2 linked regions of the Homo sapiens genome follow. The protein of the gene in region 1 interacts with the protein of each later gene in a biochemical or structural test. Each region holds a gene or a part of one and is shown in the gene's direction. Other genes may lie near its edges.

The links.
Region 2: the proteins of LCP2 (region 1) and FYB1 form a complex in vitro, tested with the Homo sapiens proteins (one study listed by BioGRID and IntAct).

What each region holds. Positions count from the first base shown.
Region 1 is NC_000005.10:170,245,777-170,253,058, reverse strand, and holds the end of LCP2 (lymphocyte cytosolic protein 2), read left to right. Parts: intron 1-488; exon of another isoform or gene 489-547; coding exon 548-625; exon of another isoform or gene 626-1,411; intron 1,412-2,173; coding exon 2,174-2,329; intron 2,330-4,239; coding exon 4,240-4,362; 3' UTR 4,363-6,826; downstream 6,827-7,282. Other genes in the region: putative uncharacterized protein C5orf58, read right to left, coding at 6,946-7,097. UniProt on the Homo sapiens protein: Adapter protein primarily involved in signaling pathways within T-cells, as well as other immune cells such as platelets, mast cells, and natural killer (NK) cells.
Region 2 is NC_000005.10:39,216,483-39,223,808, reverse strand, and holds the start of FYB1 (FYN-binding protein 1), read left to right. Parts: upstream 1-4,245; 5' UTR 4,246-4,366; intron 4,367-7,326. UniProt on the Homo sapiens protein: Acts as an adapter protein of the FYN and LCP2 signaling cascades in T-cells. May play a role in linking T-cell signaling to remodeling of the actin cytoskeleton. Modulates the expression of IL2. Involved in platelet activation.

The sequences.
Region 1 (7,282 bases):
AAACTCCCATTGAATGTTCTTCTGTACTTTTATCTTCCCTTTGTTTTATTTTATTTATTTGAAAAAAAAGTTAAAGGAGAAGATCCAGATGAACAATATGTTCTTTTCCCTTGGCGTTCTTTCAGACGCTTTCAATGGCAAACATGTGTTTTGCATTAAACAGCAAGAAAAATAATCCTGTTTTTTATGTTTATGACCTTGATTCGTCACTTAACTGCTCAATAACCCATTTTTTTAATCAAGCAGGTTATTATGCTAAACTGAAGAAATTATTGTATCTGTATCTTTCCTGAAGAGGTTCCATACTGTAAGGAACTCTTATTCACAGGCATTTTTGCAACCAGTGTCATGATAAAAAGCAGTTCGCACAAAATATCTTCTATTTAGCCCCAGCTAAATGACTCTGAATGCAAATTAAGAAAACAAATGTTTCAGACCTCCTGGAATTGAGGTGTTGATTTATGGAAATGATTACTCAGAGGCTTTTCTTTTCACTTACATCTGTAACTGTAAAATTTATTCAGTTTCTAAAAATTTACATTTTCAGAATTCATTAAATGAAGAGTGGTACGTTTCTTATATTACCCGACCAGAGGCAGAAGCTGCTCTTAGAAAGATAAACCAGGTATTGTGCTATAGTTTATTTTAACATAGTTGTAAATATTAATGGCAGAGAAGGGAACTGACCTGTCCTGAGTACCAATTACAGGCTAGGAATTCTGCTAGGTGCTGTTGCTTTCTGTAATACCTAGGAGACCCATTAGTGCCAGCTTCACAACTACCAGCACCCATAGCAGGGATTCCTAGGCTCGGGAATCATTAGGCTGGCAGAAGAATCTCAAGGCAGTCATTTGGTTGGCAGCATCTTAGGAGATTTTATTAATGAAAGAGTCTGTCTTGTCATAGGAATCACATGGTGTCAGAAGGAGACTCTCTTTCAAAGTTCCAACATCGTACCAGTTCTATCTTCCTCTTAACACAGACGTGCCATCCATGTTGATGTGAAAGGACCAATATTAAAGAGATGGCAGCAACTTTTTGCTTTTTGCCCTAGACGTTTCTAGCTAGTCCTTTAATATCATAAAGTCTTAAACATATTTCCCGTAGCCAGTGCCGAAACTTTACCTTAGATTTATTTATCAGAAATGGGAAAGCAAAAATCTTTCATCTTTCACACTTAAACTCCACACCAGTAGTTCTCAGTAGTAGTTGCACATTTAGATCACCCGGAGAACTTTTGAAAAATCCCGATTCCTGGGTCTCACCTTGAGATTCTAATTATTCTGGGGGTGCTGTGTCAGCTCTGGGAGTCTTCAAACTTCCCAGGTAATTCTAATTTGAAGCCAAGACTGTGAATCACTGGTCCAGAAGTATGTTTGTTTAGCAGAGATGTTCTGACAGGCTCAATTAACTTGCAATAAAAGGAACAAAGGAAAGTCATTATTGCCAACTCATGGCTATTTAAAGCTATCCTGATTTGGTATGAGGAGAAGGGAGTAGTTTAAAGGAGTCCTTACCAATTAATTCTATTTTAATATTAGATCTTTACAGTATTAATATTATGTAGCAATAATTTATTGAATGGAAATTTAAAGTACAGGACAATCAAAACAGTAGTTTAGCAAATATCAGAAAAAAGAAAAGAAAAGAGAACATCTGCATTCAATTTTGCTCAAGGGTCTGATGAAGGAAAGACTATCTAGAGATCACAGGGTTTTAAGAAGGGTGAATTTCATGGCATGTGGATGTTTTCTGACTTTGGATGTGGAAAAGAAAGTTTAGGGAATTAACTCACAGGAATACTAGGAAGATATATCTTGAGTTAACCAATAAAGTATTTTATTTCTCCTGGCCTTTTATCCACTCAACCACCCATTATTTATTACTGAACAAAAGATTCCGTTTTTATCAGGAGGCTTTAACGAGATTGACTTGGAAATTTCTTTGATACAATCTCTGTTGCCTTTCTTAATAACAAAATAACTCATGACACATGGGATATGTAGCTGTTTGGAGAACTGAATGTTCGTTGAATGACAGGTTTTGCACTCAAGAAGCTGCAAAGTGCAACTGACATGTTTGTCAGATCCCTAGAGGCTTGTCTACTACTCTTACAAGCAACAAAAATATTGACTTTTACTGCTCCCATAATAACAGGAATTTGTCTTTTTAGGATGGCACATTTCTGGTCAGAGACAGCTCTAAAAAAACAACAACCAATCCATATGTCCTCATGGTGTTGTACAAAGATAAAGTTTACAACATCCAGATCCGTTATCAGAAGGAAAGTCAAGTTTACTTGTTGGGAACTGGACTCCGAGGGAAAGAGGTAAGGATTTCAAATTTCGACATTTTCCCAAAGTCTTTATTTATGCCACTCTGCATGCCTTCATGGAGCGATCTTTGAGAGTCCGTGCTGTATGGCAAATTTAGGATTAAATCACATGAGTGAAGCCCTTCATTTATTGGAAGAGAAATAAAGCAAAATCTTTACAATGGTTACTTCTGCCATAGGATTCTTTCTTGTATATCTTTTCTTTCAAATAATCACATGTATAATTTTCAAAATCAAGAAAAACTATGTTAACTTAAAAAAATCTATTTAGATGGTGTCAAAGGAAAGTTCCCACTATTATTCACCTCTGTGGCATAATTTTAACGTAGGCTGCATTTTAAGTTGACACCACCTGGAAAAGGGGAAAAATTAGAATATTTGCTGGGGTGATTATTCAAATACTTGGCTCATTTCTTAACAAAATGGAGGTTTGGCTCTGTGAGGATGGCCAGATCGCCAAAGAAATTCTCTGTTAGGCCAAGGTTTAGATTCTCATGCCAGTCACTTTTTGAGTGCTAATCAGAACGGATGGAAAGAAACCCTCAGGGCTAGTTTTTCGCAAAGGAAACTAACAACTGAAGGTAACGCCCCAAACATACTCTAAGTTCAAAGTTCCAAGAGGAGGACCAGCTGAATCAAACATGTCCAGAATGAGAAACAGCTTACCCATAACTTCTGCTTCACATACTTCTGTTATGATAATGTTAATGAATAGAAAAAAAATGCATGCTTGTGATCAAATGTTTGAATCGCTGGTTGGCAGTGGATAGAGCTGCACAGACCCTATAGGAGCAGAGGTATTTGCCCTTCAAGATTTATCTTGGTCCAGTGTGGAAACACACAAGTGCAGACCAACCACTCATTGCAGCTCCCATGGAGGGAGGCACCTAGCAGATTAGTCTTAAAGGAAGTGCATTATCCTGTTAGGGTTCCTAGGTGAGTTGTGACCCACATCTAGAAAAATGAGTTAGGCTTTTCCCTCTCTAGCAAGCAATCAAGGCTGGGGCGATCCAGGCTATGGCTGCAAATATTGGTTGCTGAGCCTTTATGAGTGTGAAGGTGGCAGTGAGGACACAGCAGAGAGATCATGAAGGAACTCCTGTGCCATGCTGCAGATCCCACCTCTAGACACCATGAACCGTGTCTGACCTCCTGAGTCCTTATGTTTCCTAACACTATTAATGACTGGGGGTGAAATAGAGATGCAGAAACCAAAACCAAAACCAAAAACAGAGCAACCCGAGGCAAGAATATTGTAATAGTGACTATTTAAATGACCCCTTCATATGAAGTTAAAAATATATGCATTTCAAATTACATATATATATATATAGATATGTAGATATATATATATATATATACACACGCATGCACATATTTTATCTATTTTTTTTTGAGATGGAGTTTCCTTCTTGTTACCCAGGCTGGAGTGCGGCAATGGCGCAATCTCGGCTCACTGCAACCTCTGCCTCCCAGGTTCAAGCAATTCTCCTGCCTCAGCCTCCCAAGCAGCTGGGATTACAGGCGCACACCAGCACGCCCAGCTAATATTTTTCTATTTTCTAGTAGAGACAGGGTTTCACCATGTTGGTCAAGCTGGTCTCAAACTCCTGACCTCAGGTGATCCACCGGCCTTAGCCTCCCAAAGTGCTGGGATTACAGGGGTGAATTACTGCACCCGGCCCATATTTTATCTTTATCTATGGTTTGTTGGATGTTTATGAGGAATTTTTTCAAAGTTCTATAGCAGAAATCATTAAACTAATTGCCACATTTACATTTTTTCCCCCCACAATCCTCATCACTTGAAGAGGCAGCATATATTATGCAGATAAAAAAACTGAAAGTGAAGTTCCTGCTTTTCATTCCAATGTTGACTCATCTCCCTATCTTGACTCTTTCAGGACTTTCTGTCTGTGTCAGATATTATTGACTACTTCAGGAAAATGCCACTTCTGCTCATTGATGGGAAAAACCGAGGTTCCAGATACCAGTGCACATTAACGCATGCTGCAGGGTACCCATAGCAAGTTATAGCCGAGCAAATGAACCGTCCTCCTGCCTCTGTTGCCAACACGAGATCAATCAGCCTTGGTCAATGGACAAACACTTAGGACTGAACTGAACCCCTCCCCATGAACACAAGGGTTTTATCCTTTCCTTTAAAAACAGTGTTTGAAATGAAGACTGTCAACTATCCCATAATTTATTTATTCTTCTTCAATGTTTGTAAAGTGCATGAGTCATGTTCACACTTGAAGTCTAGTAGTGCACTGTAATAATTCATTTTTTAAAAGATTATTTAATGCCCATTTCAAAATACAGTAGTTTACACAGCTACAGAAACAATTTGGGGCAAGTTTTAAAACACTGAAACAGTAATAGTTATTGGTGTCACATAAAACTGATTTGTTTTTTACAGCCAAACCTCTGTCAGTCAGAGGCATTCATTAGTTTTATACATGTAATTTGAAAATCACTAAACCTCGTTTTCTCAGCAGCAATAATTTAAGAGGCTTCAAAAATATAATTTCACTCTTATTTAGTATTTTTTCCTGGGGGCATTTTTACGTAATTTTTTTATGAAAAGACAAATGCATGTTGAGATAACTTCTGGGATTAAAATAGTCTTTTGCTTTACTTTTTTGGTTTCCTAAAACAACTTTATTGACTTTTAGTCCATACTGTTATATTTTTGTCTTAAAGAAAATTTAAACTACAAATACCAAAAGAAAACATTTTAAATTTAGGGATGAGACTTTGGTGTATCGTGGGTCTAGGTTTAATGAACACATCTGGGGTTAAGTTGGCATTTCTTCACATCTCCACACCCACACCAACCATCACAGCCCCCCACCAACCTTCTCCCAACCCCAAAAGCATTGTCCAGGGATATAGATTTTACCAAAGGCTTCCTGGGAAGACGAGGGAGCAACACTTTAGATTAAATGTGATCAGACTTTCCTATTAGATATGGCTCTTCTGTCTCTTGTTATCCCCCTGACAGCTCTGCCATAAAGTCCCTTCTCCTCATCCTTCCCAAACAGGCTGTATAAGTGCTTTGAGGTAATTAAACTCTTTCCTCCAGTTTACAAATATCACTTAACAAAAAATATAGGCATTCAGCCAGATTAAAAAACTGGTATTCAGCCAAATAGTGACAATCAGTTGTTCTTCAAGTTTTTCCCTTTGGGACCTTGGTTGTTATTGCACAACTTTTATTAGCAACAATTTTTGGCGTCTCTGCTTAATCTACAAGTTTTCGAAATGGAAAAGAGTATCTTGCAGCTTCATTTTCATGAGCTAATAAAAGGGGTATTGGAAGGAATCTAAGAAGTCACCATTTTAAAACTGATGATATGTTAAAATAAGGAGTATGCAGAAGGTAGAGACTTTTAACTGATGATAAAAATGGTGTTTCACAAAATCTCATCCTTAACAACCAGAAGTTCTCAGTTTAGGGTCCAAAACTTGGGAGTTTAAGGCTGAAAACCCTGCATTCATTTACACGTCTACACAACGGGCTATTCAGCAAGTATTTACTTAGTGGCTCTTCTGTGTTAAACAAGTGAGCTAGGTACAAGGTAGTAAGGATAGCATACACCATAGGTTCTAGTATCGAGTAAGCTCCACTTGTCTTGCTTTGCCGTATTCTATCTTTACAATTCAAAAATATCTAAAATGAAGGACCTGATAGATTTCAAAGCAACTATTTGGTAGCGAATCATGTTTATAAAACAAACCAAAGCTCATTTTAAGTCTATTAGTGGAAAGTGCCATCAGGATTAAGATGTTCTGTTCCATGGCTATGACTGAAATCAATGTTGGGAAGCTAATGTTTTCATGACTAGCATTCTCTCTCTGTTCAAGCACCGACAACTCCTTTTGGCTGGGCCTTGCCTCTTTTGGCCACAGACCTTCTATATGACCCCAGGTGCATCAGTCACAGTTGCTCAGAACCCTGCTCAGTGATAAACATCTTACTAAAGCTGGGTCAATCAGGGTCACTCTCTGGAATGTTAAACATGAAGCCTGAGACAAGATCTCTCTTTTATCTGGGGTCCCCAAAGGCAATGCTGTACACTTGGAGCTGCCTGCTGCCCTGCAACTACTCCCATTTACCAATTATCTGGAAGAACCAGTCTACAATAGAAGACAACGAGGCCAACACACAAAAACACAGTAAAAGTATGGACAAATTAGTGGGATCCCTGAAATCTATTCCAACTATGTGCTTCCAAGTCACATGACTCAATAAATGCTTCAGCTGGTTGAGTTGTGCTTGGCGTTCACTACCAGGAGAGTTCTGATTAATAAAAACTCATTCCATCAATTAATAATTTAGTAGCTCTCTTTCAACCTGAGCCAAATTCAAGCATAAGCTAAAGGATAAGCAGTGACCCATGGCCAATTTCCTATGTCATACACTTGCCATTAGTGACGTAAGTTAAGCCATTCTTCAAAACATTAAACAGCCTTCAAGAACATGAACTGCTTGTTTACATTATTTTTATTTTGTTTTAAATTATATATATACAAATTAGTAAACTCAACTCTCCCAAATATTTGTTAGTTCAACAATAAAACAGAAACTCATAACAAATAAGAAATCAGATAGAAAAACTGTTAGAAACAAGGGATACATCTGATATTTTAGACTCTTCAAAGAGGGGGTTGTTTCTTTCTGCTTCTGCTAAGTTCTCAGTCTTGATGGGATGATTAAAATGTAGGATAAGGTCACAAAGCAATAACTGGGAGAGCTCTGTGCAAAACAAAACAGGAGATATTATATTGTAGCACATATGTCATAAAAAACTATTATTGCTTTAAGTAGCTATTTCTTCCTAATTCCTAATTTCCAAGTGATTAGTGATCAAACCACAACTTAAGTGTGTCCCATTCTGACTTAAAATAAGATTTATGCTCTCGAGGAGCCAAGATGGCTGA
Region 2 (7,326 bases), about 130 Mb from region 1:
CTTCTCCATCTCTACTACACCCACCCCCACTCTAATTCTCTTACCTAGGGTTTTATCTCCTTGTATTGCACAACAGAGCTGCACCAGATAGAGAAGTGGAAACCTAGTTTTTACGTCCACAAAGAATGAGCTACTCATTGAGACATTCATCATTTGCTTAGAATTACTCTTGCATGGGGGAATGGAAGCCCTAAACATTTAATAAATATCCAGAAGCACTGAGGTGTTAGCTTGATTCTGTAGCAGATGTTAAGACCAAAAACTTTATTTAAGAAGCATTTGAATGATTTTTTTAAATTTAATTGCTCAGGTTTCCCTGTAATTTATGAAGGCCTTTAGTGAATAGCCACAAAAATAATGAAAACTTCATATTCAAATAATAACTTAATATTACATTACTGGTTTCCTTTAGAAACATAATGCAAGTAATTCTTTTCAACTTCACCTTCTGTCAACACCATCTCAAGGAGGACTATACATAAAGGAAAATATGCTCCTCATATTTTTATATTTTCCTCTAAATGATAGGGGAAAATACTACTACTATACGGTGTCTTAAAAGTCTTACATTAATTCTCCAGTTCAGAAAATTGGTTGCCTGTAGCCAAAGCATGTAGTAAAATAGGTTTGCATGAAAAGCAATGCTTTTGCTTTTATTTTTTTATTTTTTATTTTTAAATTTTATTTTATTTTATTTTAAGTTCCAGGGTACATGTGCAGGATGTGCAGGTGTGTTACATAGGTTAACGTGTGCCATGGTGGTTTGCTGTACTTATCAACCCATCACCTGGGTATTAAGCCTGGCATGCATTAGCTATTTTTCCTGATGCTCTCCCCTCCATTGCCCTCCCCCAACAGGCCTCAGTGTTTGTTGTTCCTCTCCCTCTTTTATTGATTATAAGACACATAACACAGAGTGACAAGGGGAGAATCAAATGTAATTATCAGCATCATCATCTTGTTGTAATCAAATAATATTACTGCACAAATTTTCCTTTGTGAGCAAAGATTTTATAAAAATAGAAAAATGGGTGTTTATTATTATGTAATAATAAGAAAAGCTCAAAATAAGATAAATTTGAGCAAGTATCTATACTTCCGCTTATTTCGGAAACATACCATCATGTTACTAAACTCACCTCATAGCATTTTAGTTGTTTTTATTAAATCTTCAAACCTTTCAGACACTACTAAGCATAGAGACCATTCATAACAAATGAAACTTTCAGTTTTTTAAACTAAAACTTTCTAAATGTGTACATTTCTTTTCTGCCTTTTTGGAAAGCAAACTTTTAAAAATGTATATACTTTTAGGACACAGAGGCTGAGAGATATAAATTGCTGGGCTCACCTTCCCTTTAGTGGGACAAATGCATTAAAAAAGAGCAAGAGTCCCACAAACCAGGAAGCTGCCCTTGGCCTCTAATACATTAATTAATGTTTATAAAGTGCCTTCTGTATGCCTGGCAATGTACTACAAGCTGGAAATCCAGGACAAATAAGCCACAGTTACCGCCAACCCTTAAGGAACTCATGATCTAGTGAGAAACACAGACATATCTCCAACAACTAAGAGAGAGTACAAGACGCCAGAGCTCAGAAGGCCTTACCCAGTCTTGTGGGACAAAGTTCAAAAGGAGATCATATCTACACTGGGTTTTGGAGCATAAGCAGGAGTTAGCCAGGTGAAAAAGGAGAGGGGGCAGTACATTCCATGAAGACAGGGCGTGTTGCTTGCTTTTGGAGGATTATTTCATTTTATTTTATTTTATTTTATTTTACTTTATTTTATTTTATTTTATTTTTGAGACAGAGTCTTGCTCTTGTTGGCCCGGGCTGGAGTGCAATGGTGCAATCTCAGCTCACTGCAACCTCCGCCTCCTTTGTTCCAGCAATTCTCCTGCCTCAGCCTCCTGAGTAGCTGGAATTACAGGTATGCACCACCACCACGCCCAGCTAATTTTTGGATTTTTTAGTAGAAACAGGGTTTCACCATGCTGGCCAAGCTAGTCTCGAACTCCTGACCTCAGGTGACCTACCCTCCTAGGCCTCCCAAAGTGCTGGGATTATAGGCGTGAGCCACCTCACCCAGTGGATTATTTTATTTTGTTTTGGCCATCTGAGAGAGGTTGGCAGAGAGGAGAAGAAAAACAAGTAATCCCAAATTCCAGTTAGGCTTCCTTCATGGCCCAAGATCAACTGTCCCATGTTAGGTAAAGTCTTCCTCAACTCTTCTGCCCCCATGCAGAAGGAATTACATATTCCTGGGTATTTCCAGATGCCTTTATTCATACTTTGAGCTTAATACTCATCACAGTGTGTCATGGTTAGTTATACAGTGTCTATCTCTATAGTGGTTATAATACATGTTTGGTTGCAGCAAAAGAGACACAACATAACACTGATTTTTAAAAGTTAAATGTCTGTCCTCCTGTTCCCTTCTTTATAACCATCTAGCAAAATCCAGTGAAGATGGGGTTGTCTCCTGTGTTGGGGGCCAGGTCCTTCTATCTCCTGGCTCTGTCATGCCTAGAGTATTACCTTAGTCATCACTGGATCAGAAGAGCTCAGGCCCCCACAGCATCCCAGCCAGCTGGGAGGGGAAAGCATGATGGGGCCCTCTTTTAGGACACACCAAGAAGCTACATAGATCCCTTCTGCATAGATCCCATTGACTAAAACTTAACCACATGGCCAAATCTAATGTCAAGAGGGACTAGAAAATGCCTTATCCTGTGTAGCTGTGGGCCAGGTAAAAAGCCAGAGATCTCTTAGGATAGAATAAGCATCCTAAACTTTTGGCAAACTTTTTCTGCAGAGGACTAGATAGTAAATATTTCAGGCCATATACGGTCTCAGCCATGTCATCATCATTGTTGTCATCATCATTGTTACCATCATTGTCTTCTTTTGCTTCTTCTCCCTTTTCTTACAATTCTTAAAAAATGTAAATTCTTAGCCTGAGGTCTGTACAAAACATTCCACAGGCCAGATTTGGCATGCGGGCCATAGTTTGCTGACCCTACTACTCTATAAGAAGGGAAAATCATACGGGGAGGAAAGTGACCATCTCTGGCATAACGTCTGTAAGATTATAAGCCACTGAGTGGAAAATCCTTGTCTTCTCCATCTTTCTAGTCTTGGCCAGTGCTTGACCCACACAGTAAGTGTTTGATGTTTATGAATGAATGAGTAGAAGGAAGGTGGGGGAGGTTAATTTCACAATCACAATTTGTTAAAATCTCATTTAGTCCCAATGGTAGCCTCTGTTTTGGGGGGTTTCTTTTCTTTTCTTGTCTTTTCTTTTCTTTTTTTCTCTTTTCTTTTTTGAGTTTCTTTCTTTCTTTCCTTCTCTTTATTTTTCTTTCTTTCTTTCTTCTTTTTTTTTTTTCCTTCAGACAGGATCTTGCTCTGTTACCCAGGCTGGAGTGCAATGGTGGTGCAATCATAGCTCACTGAAGCCTTGAACTCCTGTGCTCAAGAAATCCTCCCACCTCAGCTTCCCAAATGTCTGGGGCTACAGGCATGCACCATCACACTTGGCTAATTTTTTTTTTATTTTTGTAGAGACAGGGTCTCACCATGTTGTCAAGACTGGTCTTGAACTCCTGGTCTCAAGCAATCCTCCTGCCTCAGCCTTCCAAAGTACCGGGATTACAGGCATGACCCACTACACTCAGCCCCACTGGTGGTCTTTTCACATGGATTATCATCTAAATACTCCATTTCTTCCAGCCTCAAGAATAGTCTAACAGAGAGCCGACAGAGTGAGTCTAGTGGGCTTTCCACACATGAGTGACCACTCTTCAGTTGATATGGTCAAGCACACCACTTTACCTCCTGACCTCAGGTGCAATTAGCTTCCAAATATTCCACATGCTCCAGTGGACCTTTCTAATTGTAAGCATCCCCCTTTGGCCCCCATTGCAGGTGACACTCCTGGGTGTGTGGAAAGATTATGGGTCCAAAGAACTTACAGCTTCTTCCTCTTGAATAAACATGGTGGCAGGCAGGAGAATCTTGTTTTGGTTTTACCCTTTTAAATATCACATGCTTGGTGGGAATGTTAGCAGAAGTATCCAGGCTGAACAGACACTTTTAAGTTCCCCTTTCTCCTCCTTATTACTCAATATCCTGAGGGCATAATAGAACTTTTCTTGTCTAAGTTTGCCTGGTCAGGGGAGGGAGGTGTGGCTCACTCAACCACTGACCGGGACAAAACCCTGCCAGGCATCAGAAAGCTCCGCAGTTCTTGAGTTCCACATGCAGAGCAGATGCGACAGCTAGAAGTGAGTAGGGCCCAGACCCTGGCCCAGGAAGATCCACTAAAGGAGGCCATCCTTCCGCCTTCTTCTGCAGGAGTCAGGTAACAGCTATGCCTAGGTTTCTTCTTTCAAATAAATGTGTAATTTTTTATAGCAGGAAAAAAGCACCACTTCCAAATTCTGGCAGCACAGACTGTGCTAGCTGAATAACTGAAGGAAACGCATGTTCTGTTGGAAAATAGCAAAAGAGATGAACAGGAGACACTAAAACTCAGCCTCATGGTAGCCAAAAGGATGATAAGCAGATAAAAATGTGGCCGGGAACGTGTCTGTCACTTGCTCTTTCGTAACTGGATAAGGCCTCTCATGTGTTCTTGTTGGAACCTCTGGTGCCACTAGCGTTAAATAACGTCTTGCAGTGAAACCAGAAACAAGGTTTTATTGCCAACAGAGCTGGGCACAGATGGTTTATTTCATCCTGGTTCCTAACAAATATGTGTCCATCCTTTTGATGAGAAAGAGTAACTTTCAATTTCCTCCAAACCTGGCAGGAGGTGAGGATTCACATGAGATTTCTACATAGACTAAAGAAAGGGACTATACTGCCATGAATTATGCCTTCTCAGAAGGAATCCTGGCAAACTGGATAAATGATGACAAACAGCTGCAGATCAGCCAAGGAGGCCTTTCAAAGCAACCAGCAACTCCAAATTTTCCTCGGAGCCTTTGGCTGTCTTGTATACATTGCTGATTCTTCTGAAAAATTCACAAGGTCTTTTCCCCCCATTTAACTTGATTTGCAGGGAAGTAATTAATAGAAATGGGCCTCTGACTCTGCCTTCTATTAGCTGTGTGACTTTGGGAGAGCCACTTAACCTCTCTGTGTCTCAGTTTTCTCATCTAAACATGGGGATAATAATAGAACTCATCTCATGGAGTTGTTGAGGGGATAAAACTATATACACTTTTTGAGTACTAATGTAAAATAATAATTAATATTCACCATTTTAAATATTTTTTCATTAAATACAAATAATTCTGCGTGGGAAACAGATGGGCTTATCACCGGAAGGGTGAAGTTGTGGCTGTGATTTTCTGCCCATGCTATGGGAATGCCACCGGAGGTTTTAGGTAGAGTAAAACGTCCCCATGCAATGTGAGATACACACACTTCAAATAGTCCGATACCTTAAGAAATTAATCATAAGTGATAGGTGAGGGGGAGGAGGATAAGGGTGCTCTTTCCAATAAAACCACATGTTTTATGATGTACCATTAAAGGCGATCCTGAATATCAAAGGCGTTATGGTGCACTTAAGGCACCCCGTGGAAAAGTTGACCATCCGTTTCAAAAAGGAAAGGCTAAAAAGGTTTCCATTTCCCTTGAGAAATTATTGTAAAGGTTGAAATCCACACTGCCTGACTGTCATGTCCATTATTTGTTTACTACCATTGGGCTTCAAATTCCCCCCAGCTTCTGCTGGAGTCCAGAGGCTTGGAAGCTCGCAGCAGCTGATTTCTGGTGCAATGCTGCACCTTGCCAAGTTACGGCTGCTTCATAGAGCAATCACACTGACATCTAGTGGTCTAAAGAGTAAGTGCAGGCGGTGGCTTTGAAGCTTTTACCAGCCTCAATGTGCTTTAAAAACCACATTTTCCACCATTTACACAATACGTTAACAAGAGAGAGAGATCAGGGATGTAGAAATGATATTTCATTTGTCTGAGGTGTTACTAGAGGCTGCTCTACAGGAACATTTCTAAAAACAAGAAAGTGAAGAGAGTGAACCGTGGCTCGCTGGCGGGTTTGGGCTGTGGTTCCAGGGGTTGCGGTTAAGACTGTGACTCCAGAATCAAGATCCTGAGCTTGAAGGTGGTCTCTGCCACGCACCAGCTGTGGGCCTTGGGTGAGTTCCTAAATGGTTCCATGACTCAGTTTCTTTATCTGTCAAATGGGGATAACAGTAACGTCTCCATTGACCTGTTTTGAGGTGATCCCTGAAAAGCTCCTAGCACAGCACCTGGCCCAGAAGGCAATCGGGGTTGCCCTCTGTTCTTGTTGTGACTGTTTTTTAAGAGCAAGCTGCTGCAGAAGCTGGCACCCCACAGGTCAGACAGCATAGCGCAGTGGAAAGCTCAGAGGATGAGCAAGGGAGAGACCCAGATTTTAGCCCAACTGTGTGAACCTGGACAGATCCCTTACGCAGTTTCTTTTTTGTAAAATGAAGGACCTTGGTTCGCTAATGTTTAAGGATTTTTTCCTTTCTCAAACGTTGTGTTCTAAACCTTGTACAGGCTTCTAATTGAAATTGTTCTACCTTTAAGGCCCATTTGTCTCCTTTCTTTTTACCAAAGCCCAGGGCCAAGCATGTCCCAGGTGTTTATTATATAGTTGCTGACTGATAAGAAGTGATTGTTGGAATGCTCTCTATTGGTCACTAGGAATAAACCAAGAATGTCTTTGGGCAGGAATGAAAATCCAGTGGGAAGCTCTGGAAGTCAAGGAATATTTCCCCATCAGAAGCTGGTCTGGGGTTTCTCTGATAAATTTGGAAAGCTCAGTGGTTGTCTTGTTTTTCTACCTCTGCTAATCAGCCTCTCTAAACAGATAAGAAACCAGGAAAATCATTTAGCTATATAAATTCAATACATAACCTTGTTAATCACGTTGCTGCAGCCTGCGCCTTGTGAGTTGGTCAGAGCAGTGGATGACTTTGCTTCTAAGTGCAGGTGAAATGCCACCAAATTCACATGCTGCCTGTGACCAATGCCTAACTCAGTCTTTCCAAGCCAGGGATAATCCCAGCTGGGATGTCACCTCTAATATGGCAACAAATGGTGGTGCAGCAAAAAATAATCATGAAACAGTCTTTCTTCCCTTCTTCCTAAACTTCATCCACATAGACTGTTGGATATTTATAGAAATCCAGCACAAACACAGGGAGGGGAACGACACACACTGGGGCCTGTTGCAGGGCAGGGGGAGAGAGAGCATCATGATAAATAGCTAATGCATGTGGGGCCTGATACCTAGGTGATGGGTTGAGAGGTGCAGTAAGCC